Linked DNA regions of Homo sapiens: regions 1 and 2 are each reported to be linked to region 3. The links are microRNA targets in miRTarBase. Many come from high-throughput screens and were not tested one by one. Region 3 holds a microRNA gene; each other region holds the end of a gene's coding sequence. Distances are between the middles of the regions.

Region 1 (5,000 bases), 26 Mb from region 3:
AATATTAAAATAAAGAAATAGATGTCTATTAGTTGGAAATCATTTATTGCCTCTATAAAAGTTTAAATAAAAACTCTACAAAAATTCACATTACAGTCTGATGTGGTTTTAAGGTGACAGTATATTTCAGAGGTAGTACTAGTAAAATGGGATGCAGGATTGCTAAAATGAATTACTTAACAAGTTAATGCAAAATAAAATTTCAGTGTGGAGCAATATACACTCAGTATATATTTTAATGAAACAATTTTAATTATATTTGCTTGAAAATATCACTTTACTCTTTTTTCCCCCTAGCAAATCTGTTCTTAATCAAAGTTTGTTTTCAGCAATGGTGTGTTGACTGTAGGTTCACAAGTTAGTAGCCTCCTTGATTATAGCATTACAGAGCATAGCTTGGTGAAGAGCATGATACAGTGCTGTCTGCCAAGGAAAATACCAACTTCAAAGAGAAATCTACCCATTTACCTAACATTTAGATACAGTGGTACTGATAACTCCCTTAAAAAGCTAACCTATCACATGTTTGCATGTTTAAGATCTGAATGAAAATCTAATATATTAAAAAAGTAGACAATATTTCTGGAATAACACAACTGTAATACGGAAGAAGGGCAGGAGTTAAAGTTTTCAGAATGTCTTTTAAAAAGGATCACAAAATAGTTGTCTGAGATGAAGAAACTATCCCTTGGAAATGGGCTGAATCCGATTCCCACCACCCCCACCAAAAAAGGCAACAAAGTCCATTTTAGAGCCCAAAATTATTTTAAATTAACCACTTATGTTTTCTCCTACAAACTTACAGACTGCTGAATATGAAAGTGCCTCACAATAGATGTTGCTGTCTTTGGAGAAATGGCTTCTTTGACATCTTTTGAGGTCTTGGTCGAATAAAGAGTACAGGGTATAATTGGGTCTCAGCCTTTTCTTCTCCAACAATAACAAACATTTCTATCACATGCTTGCAATGGCAATACAAAAATCCTGCTGTTGATAACTGACCTTAGGACAAAACATCCCCAGTTTCCATGAAGAGGCCAATTTTCTTTTAAGGTTTTCTTTGCATGTGCTAATTTTCCTATTCTCCAGAGCAATTGCAATTCTCATTTTCTTGTGAATAAGTTTAGCTTGGCTGAAAAGAAGAAAATACCTTCCTTTTTTTTTCATATGTACACATTTTGGAAGGTAAGTGCTCTTACATACACATTTCTGGCTTAAAAACTGCTTGGCTGTTCTAAGCTTAAAGCAGACATAGAAATGTAGTTGAAAGAAAAAAAGAAGTTTTTTCTTGTTGTTGTTTTTTGTTTTTTGTTTTTTTCCACATTGGCTTCTGTCTCCCTGAGAGAGCCTTCAGATAGTAAGGTCTGTTTTAATAATCTCAAAGCCCTAAAGAAAGAAACACTAGTTAGTTAATTTTTATCCCCAGCCATGAAGATGTCCACAAGAGTAATTATAAGCTGATAATTTTTCCTGCTCTAACATATCTCAAAACCAACTCCTATCTACATATGTAAAAAATATACTTTCTTCATAACAACTTTTCAAAGCTTGACCTTGACATCTTTTTCAAAGTCTACCATGAATAATTTCAATCTGGCAATTATGATTCTTTTTCTATAGATAGAGGTATTTCCTTCAGTTCCTGCTACAGAATAGCCACATTTCATTTTAGAAGTGTTTTAATTCCAATGATGGTGAAGAAAAATATTCTGGTGCTGAAACACAAATTTCAAGACAAAAGGAGTTCTAAATGTATTGTTATGATTTATATAGTTTCTATTTTGATGAAATGTTAAACAGAGACAAAAAGATCATCTATGCTTTCTCTCAAAATTGTGGACTAGGAATCCTTCTAAGAATCACACCTAGCAGAACCTTAAATCTATTAAAAATTCTACTTAAATATGGTTTATTAATATCATAGAAGATGTTAAAAAGAAATAATTATTTGTGATGTTTACAGCTTGCTGAGAAATCCAATGTCCAGCACAGTGTCTTCTCTATAGCAGGAGCTCAACAAGTATTTTTCGATTTAGTGACTAATGGCTGATGCGTGACAAATAAAATCTATAGTGTTAAAAGCTGTAGGAGAGAATATACCTATAGTTAATTTGCAATGAGAACCAAATAAGAAGGGGCTTAAATTGAAGCAGAAGTAATTATATTTGAAAGATAAACTCAATGACTATGAAGCAGACCCTAGGAGAGACTTGAAGGCCTGGAATTTGTTCATGCTACTTAATAAGTGGTTTCTAACTTCGTTGTATATGGGGGCGACTCTTCATCTCATGGAGGAGTTGGTGTGACTGGTACATTTAATCGTAATATCTGAGGCTCTGTTACTCTCTGCTGCTTTCTCTGAATGGAATTTGACTTGTCAGCAAGAAAAACTAACTATTGTTTGCAAAACTCCATATGGCTCAAGGAAGCATATCTGAACACTGAAATATTCCTACTAACAAAGGGACCATATCAGTAGTATGGCAGCAATATAAACAAATAAGTGACAAAATGAAAGACTATCAGTGGGAGCTTACCTATTTGTGTGTGTGGGAGGATGGGACACTTCAAGGGTAAAGACATTTATGACTGCCTTTCTGTGTTCATAAGTTAGTACTAGTAAATTTCAAGATCAAATTTGGCTCTAATTACAAATTTTTAAAAATATCTGAATACCTACTAGGTACCAACAAAAATTAAAAACAAATTGGAAACAGAAACTTGATGGCTGAAACAGCCATCCAGCTACTTCATTAATCTTTTAGGTATAGATAGTAATTTAACCATGCAACACAATTGCACACTGCCAAGTCACAAATATATGACACTGTGGGCTTAGGGAGAAACTGACATTTTTTCTTCTATGGGTCTTGGTAATACCATCTGGTACTCCAGAAAGGAAGAACTACAAAGAACAGTCTACAGTGTGTTGCCATCTGGTACCTACTAATAATAGAAAACTGGGTAGCTTGCCCATTTTAGGTGTGTACTCATAGAATAGTATTCATGGAATTCAGAAGACTGTGATTTACAACCAAAGTAGTATAACTCTTTTTGAATACTATCCTTGGCTGATGGCTCTGTACAGGCCTCATATGGAAATGAGGTAAATTTTGTGGCAAAGCTGAATGACTAAATTTTTAAAAAATCTCAGCAGCTTACCTTGACTTCCTGTTTCATAACATGTAAGAACTAAAAAAGAATTATAAAGATGGTGATAAATTTAAAATATTTGTGTAACACTTCATCTAACCCAGGTATACAAATTTACTACTGGAATGTCAATCGTATCAATACTTGTCATTTGTAGTAATGAAGAATCCCCATCAAGACTAATTTTGACAACATTTTGTTTCTGTACACTTCGTAATTTATTTGACGTTATGTTGGTTAAATTACCTTTCCATTGTGCTTCCCCACCCCCACACAAATATTTGGGTTAGATAATAGAAGAACACCAGCAATTTACAATTACATACCTGTAATCATTTAATTTTCAGTCATTAGTTTAAGTCAAATTTTCATAGGGGTTAAAAACTAAATCAGAGAACTCATTAAATAATGAGTTAAATAATTTTTTAAAGTTTTGTTTTAAATGTTCAGTCCACTTTCCTGAGAAAAAGTGTAAGTGGATGATAGGAAAAGGAGAGAAGAAGAAAGAAGATGTAATGGCTACAAAAACAAGACTAATCAAGCTGTAGCAACTTGATAAGCAATGCTGAAATGTCTTTAGTTATTTTGTCTCTGGTTAGAAATTAGACATAATGAATTTCAGGGTTAAACTGCTGAAACTTAAATATAATTTTTTTCCAGAGTTCCATCAGTTAAAAAAATACTCTCTCAAACAATGCTTTTAAATTTCACCTACATTTTTGTTGCACTGTAGCCATTATATCTTGTACATTCTTCACAGAATACGTCCGTTTCAACAATGTGTTTTCCCAACTAAAGAATACCAGGGCAACAGAATGCAGTTATCTTGAAATGCACACCTGTTACGAAGCCAAAAGACTGTATCATATATTCCCTCCAACTGAAATCACAAACTTTCTGAGACATTTTTCTCTGACAAAGAAGATACACTGAATGAGGTATCATCAGGCTCCAGTGAGGCATGATTGAAATCCATTTCCTCTAATTCAGGAGGTAAATCTGACAGCAGTGCCTGAATAAAAAAAATAATATTTTTGGATTAGTATGTGGATAGATTGTTTTCCAATTTATATTAATAGTTGTAGTCCTCCCATGGTGAATTATCCTTATGGATTTAAAGAATAATTTATATTTCAGGATCTTAGACAATGCCTTACCTAAAAGAAAAATTCTTCATACATTATTCAGAAGGTAACAAAATTCTAGATGTTGAAAGTGTGAATTCTGTAGAGTAGAACCTGTACAAAGGGGATATTAGGAGGGAAATGAGCAACTCTTCTGAACCAAGTGCTTTGAAGTGTTTGAGGTTAGTGATTTTCATACTAGTTTTGAGTGTGCATTGATCACTGTTTAAGGGATTTAAAATTGCGTTCTTTGTTAAAATATTCATGCCAGTTATGCTGTCCTTTGTAGAAGACTGCATTTAACAAAAGACTATTTTGTTCTTCAGTGGGAGAAAGAACTTAGTAGTTAGGAAAAACCTCCAGCTATTTTACTTTAGACTAAATTTTAACAACTTGAAAAGACCAAGTAATTTTATTTTTTCTTTCCTAAGGCTATGTTCATACCTACAGATGGCCAAGCACCCACCAGGGCACAGCTGAATCAGTGGATCTATCTGTAGTAATGATGTATCTGGAGGGCTACTCATTTCTCTGCTTGAGTAATAAGGATAATCCAATAATGATGAAATAAGCTTTGTCATGGTCTAATTGTTTTATCTGAAGTTGTAGAACATGCACCCATTCTAAAGAAATAAATGATTAATCAAGTTTTACGCAGCTGACAATGCTAATGTTCACTTGACCATGAGGAACTTTGAACTTAATGATTGATTTGCTGCTTCC
Region 2 (5,000 bases), not on the chromosome of region 3:
AAATATTGACTGCTGACTACTGTAAAGCTAATCTTCATTTCCTACACATAATCATCTATAAAGTATATTCATGATAGAGTTCTAATTTCAGCCTGGCTTCACTCCGTTCCTTTGTAAATTTCTGGGTCTTTTTTTCCTAACTTCTCTATGTGTGTGTTAGGGAAGTCAGAATCACCTTAATAGTATCTAAGAAAAAACAGTCTTTGCTGTAGTGGTAACTATATAAGGTATTCTAAGCCCATGTTTTAGTAATCATCAGAACTTATGCTGTCATAGAGCACTCCTTTCCATTTACAGGGTCAGTGAAAGCCTTAATAAGAGCTACATTTCCTGGAGCTATCTGCAGATCATTTCCTGGTTTCTTAGGAAGTTCCTGAAAGCAATTCCTTTGACTGTAGGATTTTCTCTGTCTTCCCTAGGAAAATCTGGAGAGCTGAAGAGTTGGAGCTATTCACGAGACTGAACATCACTTCCTTGTTGACTGATTGGGTGATTGATTCCTGGGAATTCAAACAAACAAATAAAAAAGCACTTTTTTCATTTTATCAGAACTGAACTTAGCTGAATAAGTTATTTTTTACTGATTGTTAAAGTTGGGAGCAGCTGCCAGAGGCCTGCAGAGTTGGTTTTTGTTTTGTTTTGTTTTGTCAACTTAATGCAAACCACAGAGATTTTCTACTTTCTGTTTTCACATGAGTTTTAATGAGGTTCTGTTGAAGCAAAGACCCCTAGACACAAAGTAATGACTTGTTAGTAGTGGAATTATAAGCAACAGGGCAGGCCTTTGCTGGAGGTATTTTGAGAGAAAGGGAGAACAATGGAAACTATTTCTTCAGATGTAGCCCTGTCTTTTGGTAAGAATTGTGCCTACTAATTTTGCAATTTAAAGGATTTCAGGAAGCTTTTTGGTTGAAAAATCTTGTTTTTTTTTTTTTAGACGTAGTCTCACTCTGTCACCCAGGCTGGAGTGCAGTGGTGCGATCTCAGCTCACTGCAAGCTCCACCTCCCGGTTTCACTCCATTCTCCTGCCTCAGCCTCCTGAGTAGCTGGGACTACAGGAGCCCGCCATCACGCCCGGCTAATTTTTTGTATTTTTAGTAGAGATGAGGTTTCGCCGTGTTAGCCAGGATGGTCTGGATCTCCTGACCTCGTGATTCGCCCGCCTTGGCCTCCCAAAGTGCTGGGATTACAGGCGTGAGCCACCACGCCCGGCCTAAAATCTTGTTATTTTAAGTTGAGCATTTTCATTCAAAATCATCCCTAAACTTCATGTTAATTTCACCTGAGAAGGACTATTTTATGCATTTTAGAGGTTGGAAGCAAAAAACAAACAAACAAACAAAAACAGTTGTTTCTACTAGGAAGGTCAAAGAAAATAAAAGTTACTCCATTTTTACTGCCACAGGATGCAGGAAGTGCTGGCCCACATCTAGGACAGCAAGGCCACCCCAGCTTAGATGAAGCTAGCTGCATAACACAAAGCTTTAAAAGTGTGGTTCACACACCACTTGTGGACCTTATTGAATTGCTGATTCGCATTCCTAGAGATTCTGATTCTGTAGGGGTAGGCTGGAGCCTAGGAACCTACCTTTTAAACTAGTTCCATAGGTGATTCTGATGTACATATAGAGTGTGACAGCCATCACTATAGAGAATAGATTGATAAATTACAACCCACGCGTCAAATCTGGCTTGCTGTCTTATTTTGTAAATAAAGTTTTATTGGAATAGAGCAACATTCACTTGTTTACATATTGTCCATGGCCGCTTTTGTGCTACAATGGCAGAGTTGAATGATTATAGAAGACCATATGGCTGGTTAAGTCCAAAATATTTACTAGCTGGCCCTTTACAGAAAAAGTTGGCTGACCCCTTCTCTAAATCAACATTTCTCCTTGGTAACTGAAACTCTATTACAGTCCTGACAATTCCAGCAAACACAGCTGTAGATAGGGTTTAAACTCAAAGATATTTAACTCTTCTTTGGGAACTTAGTCTCCATATGTTTGTTAGTTCTTGCATAATCCACAGTTTCTCTGGGTCTTCAGCCAATCAGAGAGCTCTGTAGCTCCTGAGTAGTCCATTTCTCTGGCCCTACAAGTGAGAGTGATTGGAAGCAAAGCTTATGATTTGTATGATCTTGTATCTCAAAATAGTCCTTAATGATCTAATAGATTAGTAGGCAGTCATCAGGTAGAGACTCCAAAAACCAGACTACTTTCCTAAATATCAAGAAGAAAGGCATTGCTACAGTGATTCATGAAAAGCAGCATTAATAACTTTGGCTAAAGTTTAACAAAGCTAACCACTTCCCCTCTATCAGCCAGCCATCTATGTATCTCCTCTAAATGCAGAGAAGTAAATATGTAGTGCTGTTAATACATTTTTGCTTTTTAAAGTTATGCTTTGTCCTGGCGCAGTGGCTCATGCCTGTAATCCCAGCACTTTGGGAGGCCAAGGCGGGTGGATCACCTGAGGTTAGGAGTTTGAGACCAGCCTGGCCAACATGGTGAAACCCTGTCTCTGCTAAAAATACAAAAAATTAGCCAGGCTTGGTGGCACGTGCCTGTAATGCCAGCTACTCAGGAGGCTGAGGCAGGAGAATCACTTGAACCTGGGAGGCGGAGGTTGCTGTGAGCTGAGTTCGCGCCATTGCACTCCAGCCTGGGCTACAAAAGCGAAACTGTCTAAAAAAAAAAAAAGAAAATAAATAAAGTTATGCTTTTTCCTCTATTCCTAGTTAAATCACAACAAGTTAGTAATCCATAAATGATGTGTCCTGTTTCTCTTTAGTAGAAATTATATTTTTGGCTACCAGTTAAGAAACTTGTACTCCTTTGTCCCTTATGTTACTATAAACTCAAGATGATGAGTTTTGTGGTATTTGACTTCATAGGCAAAATCAAAATTTTTACTTTGTTGCTATTCTGTTTTATGAAATAAACTTCTGTCTATGCATTTGAACTAAGTTTCAGCAAATTCAATCTAAATTGAATAATTCCAGCTCCCAGTTTTATCCTATGTTGCTCATAAAACAGTTCCAAGTATACTGCATTATCTTGAGATTTGAAGATATGGTGCCCACGGGGATTATACTAGGCAAATGCGTTAAGCAGCTCTGGCCTAGGTGTTGTGTATTTTAAGAGACTCTATCTTAGGAGAGCTTAAGTGATTGGGCTGCAGGAAGAAGACATTGTAACCCAGGAATTAAAAATGGATTCAGATTGCCTGATTTTAACACTTTAGTTTCACCATAGGCTAATTATGTGACATTGGGCAAGAGACATAATTCTTCTGTACCTTAGTTTCTACATTTGTAAAATAGAGATGATTTGGTAACTTATTAATAAGATTTTTGTGAGAGATAAATAAAACAAATACATTTTGTAAAGGGTGAGTACTTGGAATATTTTAAACACTGTGCCATTAGCAATTTGGAATTCTGTGTTATGCAGTTCATAAGGTTCTAGCTTGACTTTTTTCTCTCTCCATTAACCCTGTCTCTCACAGATGCAAACCACTCTTAATGGCTTTACTTTCACATCAATGTGAGTGATTCCTAAATATGATTTATTTCCCTTCTCAATTCCATACCCACAGATGCTTATTATTTATTTATGTGTACCTTTCTTATCCCCATACTCTCCCTGTTTGCGATACAACTAGCTCAAAACCTCAGTCATTTTTACCTTGTCTCTCTCTCTCCAGTCCAACTCACCCAACTAGTTTTTCTCATTTGTTACTTCATTTTTGTCCTGGTTCTTCTACCAGATTTATTAGCAACTGCCTGGACTATTAATAAAGCCTCCTACTTAGGCTTTCAATAGATTGTTCTGTTCCTGCTCCATTCCAGTCTGTCCTATATACTGCCATCAGATTGATCAAAGCTGTGGTTTCTTTGTCTATTATTTTGATTCATTTTTAGATATGGTATCATTCATTTTTAAATTTAACATACCAATGAAGATTACAAGACTTAAACATCTTATCAGAAGGGGGCATTTATTTTTTAAATCAAGAAATAACTTTCCAAAAGCATTGCTTTGAATGCCATTCTCTTAAAGTCCTTCAGTGGAACTTTTGAGTGTGATTAGACATGTTCATTATCTTGATTGTAGTGATTTTATGGGTGATGATTTCACACCAACTTATCAAACTGCATACTTTGAAATGTGTAGTTTATTGTACATCAGCACTACCTTAATAAGGTTGTTTTTTTTAAAAAAAAAAAAAAAACCTTCAGCTGCTCCCTACTGTTCATCAAATAACAGTCTGATATTCAAATTCCCCCAGTATCTGGCCCTAACTGCCCTATATAGCCTTAATCAATCATGATTCTCCTCTACAATCCCAATGCTCTAGTATAACCGAGCCAGTCACTAAAGCTGCCCTCCTCCTACTGTTCCCTATGTTTCATATTCCTTTTTCTGAGGCTCTACCTGTAGACATCTTCAAGACCCAACCCAACTGTCATGAAGCCTTCTCCATGAAGGCTATCCATATAACCAGAATAAGAAGTGGTCTTTGCCTCCTTGAACTTTTGTTTGTACCACTTTTATGTTTCTTATCCAAAAAATGGCCTTAAGTTGTAATTATCTGTATAGTCATCTTCCCCACTAGGATAAAGGATTGCTGAATGATACAATTTGTTGTATACTTCTGTAACACCCCTCCTCTTCATTATCTGGCATGTACATCGATATTAAAAATATTCATTAAATGAATGAATAGCTGATTGACTCAGATGAGACTTCAAGTTTGATTATATTTGAAAAGGATGCTAAGCTTTAAGAGTCCTGATGCTCTTTATTTTAAAAAAAAAATGCTTCAGGCTGGGCTCGGTGGCTCACGCCTGTAATCTCAGCACTTTTGGGAGGCCAAGGCGGGTGGATCACCTGAGGTCAGGAGTTCAAGACCAGCTTGGCCAACATGGTGAAACCCCATCTCTACTAATAATACAAAAATTAGCTGGGCGTGGTGGCACATGCCTGTCATCCCA
Region 3 (5,178 bases):
TCTCTTCCAGCTTATGTCCTGGGCTGGGCTCTGGACAGGGAGCAGAGGCAGATGTGCGCATGTGTTCTGGAGGACTTTTATATGTCCGATGGTGTGTTAGGCACTATGTGGAGTGGAGGCAGAGGGAACTCCAGAAAAGATAAATTATCTTATGGTGGAGACAAAAGGTAGTATTGGCAACAAACATGACCTCTGGAATCAGATAGTTTTGGGTTCCAGGCCTGACTCTTTGACTCACTTATTAGTTGTGCGACCTTAGGCAATTTATTTAACCTTTCTGTAGCTCAGTTTCCTTGTATGCAAACAGGAGGAAAATAATAATCTCTTACATAATAGGATTGCTATGAAGAATATATGAACTAATATGTGTAAGACATTGACTGTAGTGCCAGGCACCTAGTAAGCACTCAGTAAGGAATAACTACTGCCATTATTGTTGTTACTAACAACAGTATGAGACTAATAAGTGATTAGTGTATAAGTACCAACAAATACCAATGGAGTTCAGAAAAAGAATGCTTAATTTTTGTGACTTATCCAGGAAATCTCTAGAGGAGACAGAAGAAGTGGAATGAAATATTCCAGGTGGAGCAAATATGAAAGTGGGAGGCTGAACTGAACTGGAGTGGGGAACAAAAAGAAGAAACAAACGCAACATCTGGCACCCTTGAGCTCTACCACCAGCTCACCTGTTGTCACTACCAATATGTCCAGTCCTTTATGGCTCTCCATTTTGGAGTGCCCTGAATTACTGGCTGCAGTTTTGACTTGGCCAGCTAGTTGGCCAGCTGCTCTGACTGAGCTTGAGGGTGTCTGTGCCTTGGTGGAGTTGACACGGGTCCTAACTCTGCAACTTGGTTTGTAGGTTCAAAGCCTAATTTTTATCAGCTTACCCAGGGCTGTTGGTTTCTAGTGGATTGGGTCACACTCCCCAACATTACAAAACACTTCTTAATAAATCACCAGGCTGATAAGTCGATTGATGATGAGAGAGAGACCTTTATAGAGATGAGAACACTTGTGTGTATCAGCCCTTTCTGATATCAAGGTACCTGAAGCCAAATTAAACAGGGACTGTTTTATAACCTAAAATCAGAACCTAATGGAGTTGAAAAGTCTCATGAGCGAGACCATATAGGCTTTGGTAGTCCATGGAAAACTGTACCTTTTTGCATGTCTGTCATAGCTTTGTAGTGTGACCAGAATGTGTGTCCTGTTCTCTCTCCACTGCTGGAGAAACATCAGTAACAATTTTTCTCTTGGATGTTCCTGTTTTCAATTCCATGCAAATGCTGTTTGTGTGCTATGGCCATGCTATTCTCTTGAATTTCTTTTTTCTTGACAAGATTTTTGAGTTGCCTACTTCTCAGCGACAACATAGTGATTCTCTCATTGAGTGTTCTTTTTGGCTTTGTTCTCAAACACTAGGAATGTTTCCAAGCAGGGCCGCCACGAATGGCTATGCACTGCACAACCCTAGGAGAGGGTGCCATTCACATAGACTATAATTGAATGGCGCCACTAGGGTTGTGCAGTGCACAACCTACACAACTGTACTCGGCGGCCCTGGCATAATGTAATGTCAGTACTTTCTTCATCAAGGTACCAGTTTGGGATTGTCCTCAGGGTAAGGGGGCTGAAGCAGTGAGCTGCTGCTGTGACCAGGAAAGGAAGAAAGAAGTAAAGTTGTGGCTTTGGGAGAATTATCTTCTCTGTAAATGAGAGCCATCATATAGGAGAACTACGTACCTTCGTTCTTTCAGTAAATAGTTTTTTAAGTGCCTACTATGTGAGGGTTGAAGAACAGGGAGGGGTTTGCATAGGAGGGAGCATTTGAACTGGGCTTTGTGAAAGAAGTAGAATATTAACATGTGAAGATGAGTCAGGAGGAGAGAATCTCAGGGGGAAGGAATAGCGAGAAGAAAGACAGATGGGAGACCACAAGGGATATATGGGTAATGGTGCATAATTCATCTTGGTTGGATAGAAAAGCATGTAAAAGGGAGTAGTGAGCAATGATGCTGGTCGGGGGTCAAATGATGATGCAGGAGGGGAGGGAGTTGAATGCCCAATTAAGGAATTTGGACTTTTATTTATCAAGCAATAAGGAGCTATCCAAAGTTTGTTTTTTAAACAGCTTTATTGGGTTATAATCATATACCATATAATTCATTCATTTAAAGTGTACAATTGAATGTTTTTAGTATATTCACATATATGTGCAACCACCACCACAGTCAAATTTAGAACATTTTCATCATCCAAAAAATAACTCCATACGATTTAGCTCACCCCCCTCCCTACCTTTCCCCCACTCACCAGCCCTAAGCAATTGTTAATCTACTTTCTGTTTCTATAGATTTTATCTATTCTGGACATTTCATAGAAATTGAGTAATTATAATATGTGACCTTTTTCCACTGGCTTCTTTCACTTAGTATGTTTTCGAGATTCATCTGTGTTTAGCATGTATCAGTACTTCACTTATTTTTATGGCCAATTAATATTCCATTTTAAGGATATGCCACATTTTATGTATCCATTTGTCTGTTGGTGAGCATTTGGGTTGTTTCTGCCTTTTGGCTATTACAGATAATACTTCTGTGAACATCTGTAAGTTTTCAGGTGCACATAGGTTTTTATTTCCCTTGGACATAGGTTTTCATTTCCCCCAGGTATAGGAGTGGAATTGCTGAGTCATATGATAACTCTATGTTTAACCTCTCAAGGAGCTGCCAGACTGTTTCTCTAAAATGGCAGCATCATTTTACATCCCTACCGACAGTATAAAAGGGTTCCAATTTCTCCACATCCTCATGCACACTTGTGTTTGCCTTTTATATTTTGGCCATGCTAGTGGGTATGAAGTGTCATCTCATTGTGGATTTGATTTGCATTTCCCTGATGACTAATGATGTTGAACATCTTTTCATGTGCATGTTGAGTACCCGTGTGTTTTCTTTGGAGAGATGTCTGTTCAAGGTTATTTATCTTTTTATTGTTGAGTTTTTTTAATACTTTAGCTATTTTTAATGTATATATTTAAGGTTTTCAACTTAATGATTATATATATATATGGAAATCACCACAATCAAGATAACACATGCATTACATCATAGAGTTATCATTTATGTGTGTATGCGTGTGTGTGTGTGTTGGAAATACTTAGGATCTATTCTTATAGCAAATTTTAAGTATACAGTACAGTATTTTCACCTATAGTCGCCATGCTGTACATTAGATATCCAGGACTTACTTGTCCTGGAAAACTAAAACTTTGTACTTTTTGACTAACATCTTACTTTCCCAGCACCAGCCCCAGCTAACCATCATTTTATACTCAGCTTCTATGAGTTAGACTAATTTACATTTCATATTTATGTGACATCATAAGATATTTTTCTTTCTGGCTCATTTCACTTAACATAATGTCCTTTGGGTCCTTCTGTGTTACTGCAAATGATAGGATATCCTTCTTTTTAAAGGCTGGATAATATACCACATTTTCTTTATTCATGCATCCATCGATGAACATTTATCTTGTTTCTATATCTTTGCTATTGTGAATAACGGTGCAAGGAATATAGGAGTGCAGATATCCCTTTGAGATCTTGATTTCAACTGTTGGATAAGTATTCCAGAAGTGGGATTGCTGTGTCATAGAATAGGTCTTTTTTTTTTTTTTTTTTTGAAACTATACTATTTTTGATAATGGCTCTATTGATCTCCATCAGCAGTTTTCCAGGGTTCTGTTTTCTCCACACCCTTCCCAATATTGCCATCTTTTGCATTTTTTATAATAGCCATTCTGACAAGGGTGACATGAGATCTCACTGTGGTTTTCATTTGCATATCCCCAATGATTAGTGATGTTGAGCACCTTTTCATATACCTGTTGTCCATTTGTATGCCTTCTTTGGAAAAATGTCTATTCAGATCCTTTGCCCATTTTAAAATTGGGTTATTTGTATTTCTGCTATTGAGTTTATGAGTTCTTTACATATTTTAAATATTGACATCAAATTTGTGGTTTGCAAATATTTGCTATATAGCTTTTTAGGTTGATGTAGTCCTAATTGTTTTTGTTTGTTTGTTTTTTACTTTTCTTGCACGTGCTTTTGATGTCATATTCAAAAAATCATTGCCAAGACCAATTTCAAGAAGTTTTTCCTATGTTTTCTTCTAGGAGTTTTATGGTTTCAGATGTTACATTTAAGTCTTAAGCCCATTTTGAGTTGGTTTTTGTGTGTGGTGTAAGATAAGAGTCTGATTTCATTACTTTGCGTGTGGATATCCAGTTACCCCAACATCATTTGTTCAAGCAAGCATCTTTTCCCCCATTGTGTATTTTTGACCCTCTAAGGTTCTTTATTCCTTTTCATCCTTTTTTTTCTTTTTCTCTTCTGATGAGGTAATTTTAAATAACTGTTCTTCAAATTTGCTGGTTCTTTCTTCTGCTTGATAAATCTCCTGTTTTTAGTTGAGTCATTGTATTCCTCAGCTCCAGAATTTGTTTGGCTGTTGTTTACAGTTTCTATCTTTTTATTTAACTTTTCATTTTGATCATACATTGTTTTCCTGATTTCATTGAGTTGTCCATCTGTTAATTTTCTTTTTTATTGTTGAGTCTTAAGAGCTATTTATTCTGAATACTAGACTCCTATTAGATACATGATTTGCAGATTTTTTCTCCCATTCTTTGGGTCCCCTCCCCTCCCCTCCCCTTTCTTTCTTTTTTTTTTTTTTGAGACAGAGTCTCACTCTGATGCCCAGGCTGGAGTGTGCAGTGGTGTGATCTCAGCTCACTGCAACCTCTGCCTCCCTGGTTCAAGCACTTCTCCTGCCTCAGCAGGAGAAGTAATCCCAAGTAGCTGGGATTACAGGCATGTGATGTGCCACAACGCCTGGCTAATTTTTTTTTTTTTTAATTTTTAGTAGAGACAGAGTTTTGCTGTGTGGGCCAGGCTGGTCTCAAACTCCTGACCTCAAGTGATCTGCCTGCCTCGGCCTCCCAAAGTGCTGGGATTACAGGTGTGAGCCACCATGCTCAGTCTGGGATGTCTTTTCACTTTCTTAATAGTGTCATTTGAAGCATGAAATATTTTAATTTTGGTGAAGTACAGTATATTTATTTTTTCTTTTGTTGCTTGTGCTTTTGGTTACATCTTAGAGTCTGTT

Evidence for each region. The annotated mature microRNA hsa-miR-652-5p reads CAACCCUAGGAGAGGGUGCCAUUCA and lies in region 3 at 1,472-1,496, shown strand. An mRNA with a match to its seed (bases 2 to 7 or 8) in the 3' UTR can be bound and repressed. Matches are read on the target gene's strand: a 7mer-m8 pairs with bases 2 to 8, a 7mer-A1 pairs with bases 2 to 7 and ends in A, and an 8mer does both.
Region 1: the mRNA of HDX is a reported target of hsa-miR-652-5p. The part of its 3' UTR that is shown has no 7-base or 8-base seed match.
Region 2: the mRNA of BCL2L15 is a reported target of hsa-miR-652-5p. Seed matches in the 3' UTR shown: 7mer-m8 at 1,952-1,958.

The regions. Positions count from the first base shown.
Region 1 is chrX:84,317,850-84,322,849 of GRCh38, forward strand. HDX (highly divergent homeobox) reads right to left here. Exons shown (of 11, transcript NM_001177479.2): 11 at 29-4,165. The coding sequence ends at 4,040. Among named protein-coding and RNA genes, the nearest start is that of MIR548I4, 95 kb to the left of the region's middle.
Region 2 is chr1:113,876,560-113,881,559 of GRCh38, reverse strand. BCL2L15 (BCL2 like 15) reads left to right here. Exons shown (of 4, transcript NM_001010922.3): 4 at 420-4,744. The coding sequence ends at 437. The region is part of intron 3 of AP4B1-AS1 (AP4B1 antisense RNA 1); the gene reads right to left. Among named protein-coding and RNA genes, the nearest start is that of PTPN22, 7.3 kb to the right of the region's middle.
Region 3 is chrX:110,053,878-110,059,055 of GRCh38, forward strand. It overlaps MIR652 (microRNA 652), which reads left to right and starts at 1,452; the gene lies at 1,452-1,549. The region is part of intron 2 of TMEM164 (transmembrane protein 164); the gene reads left to right.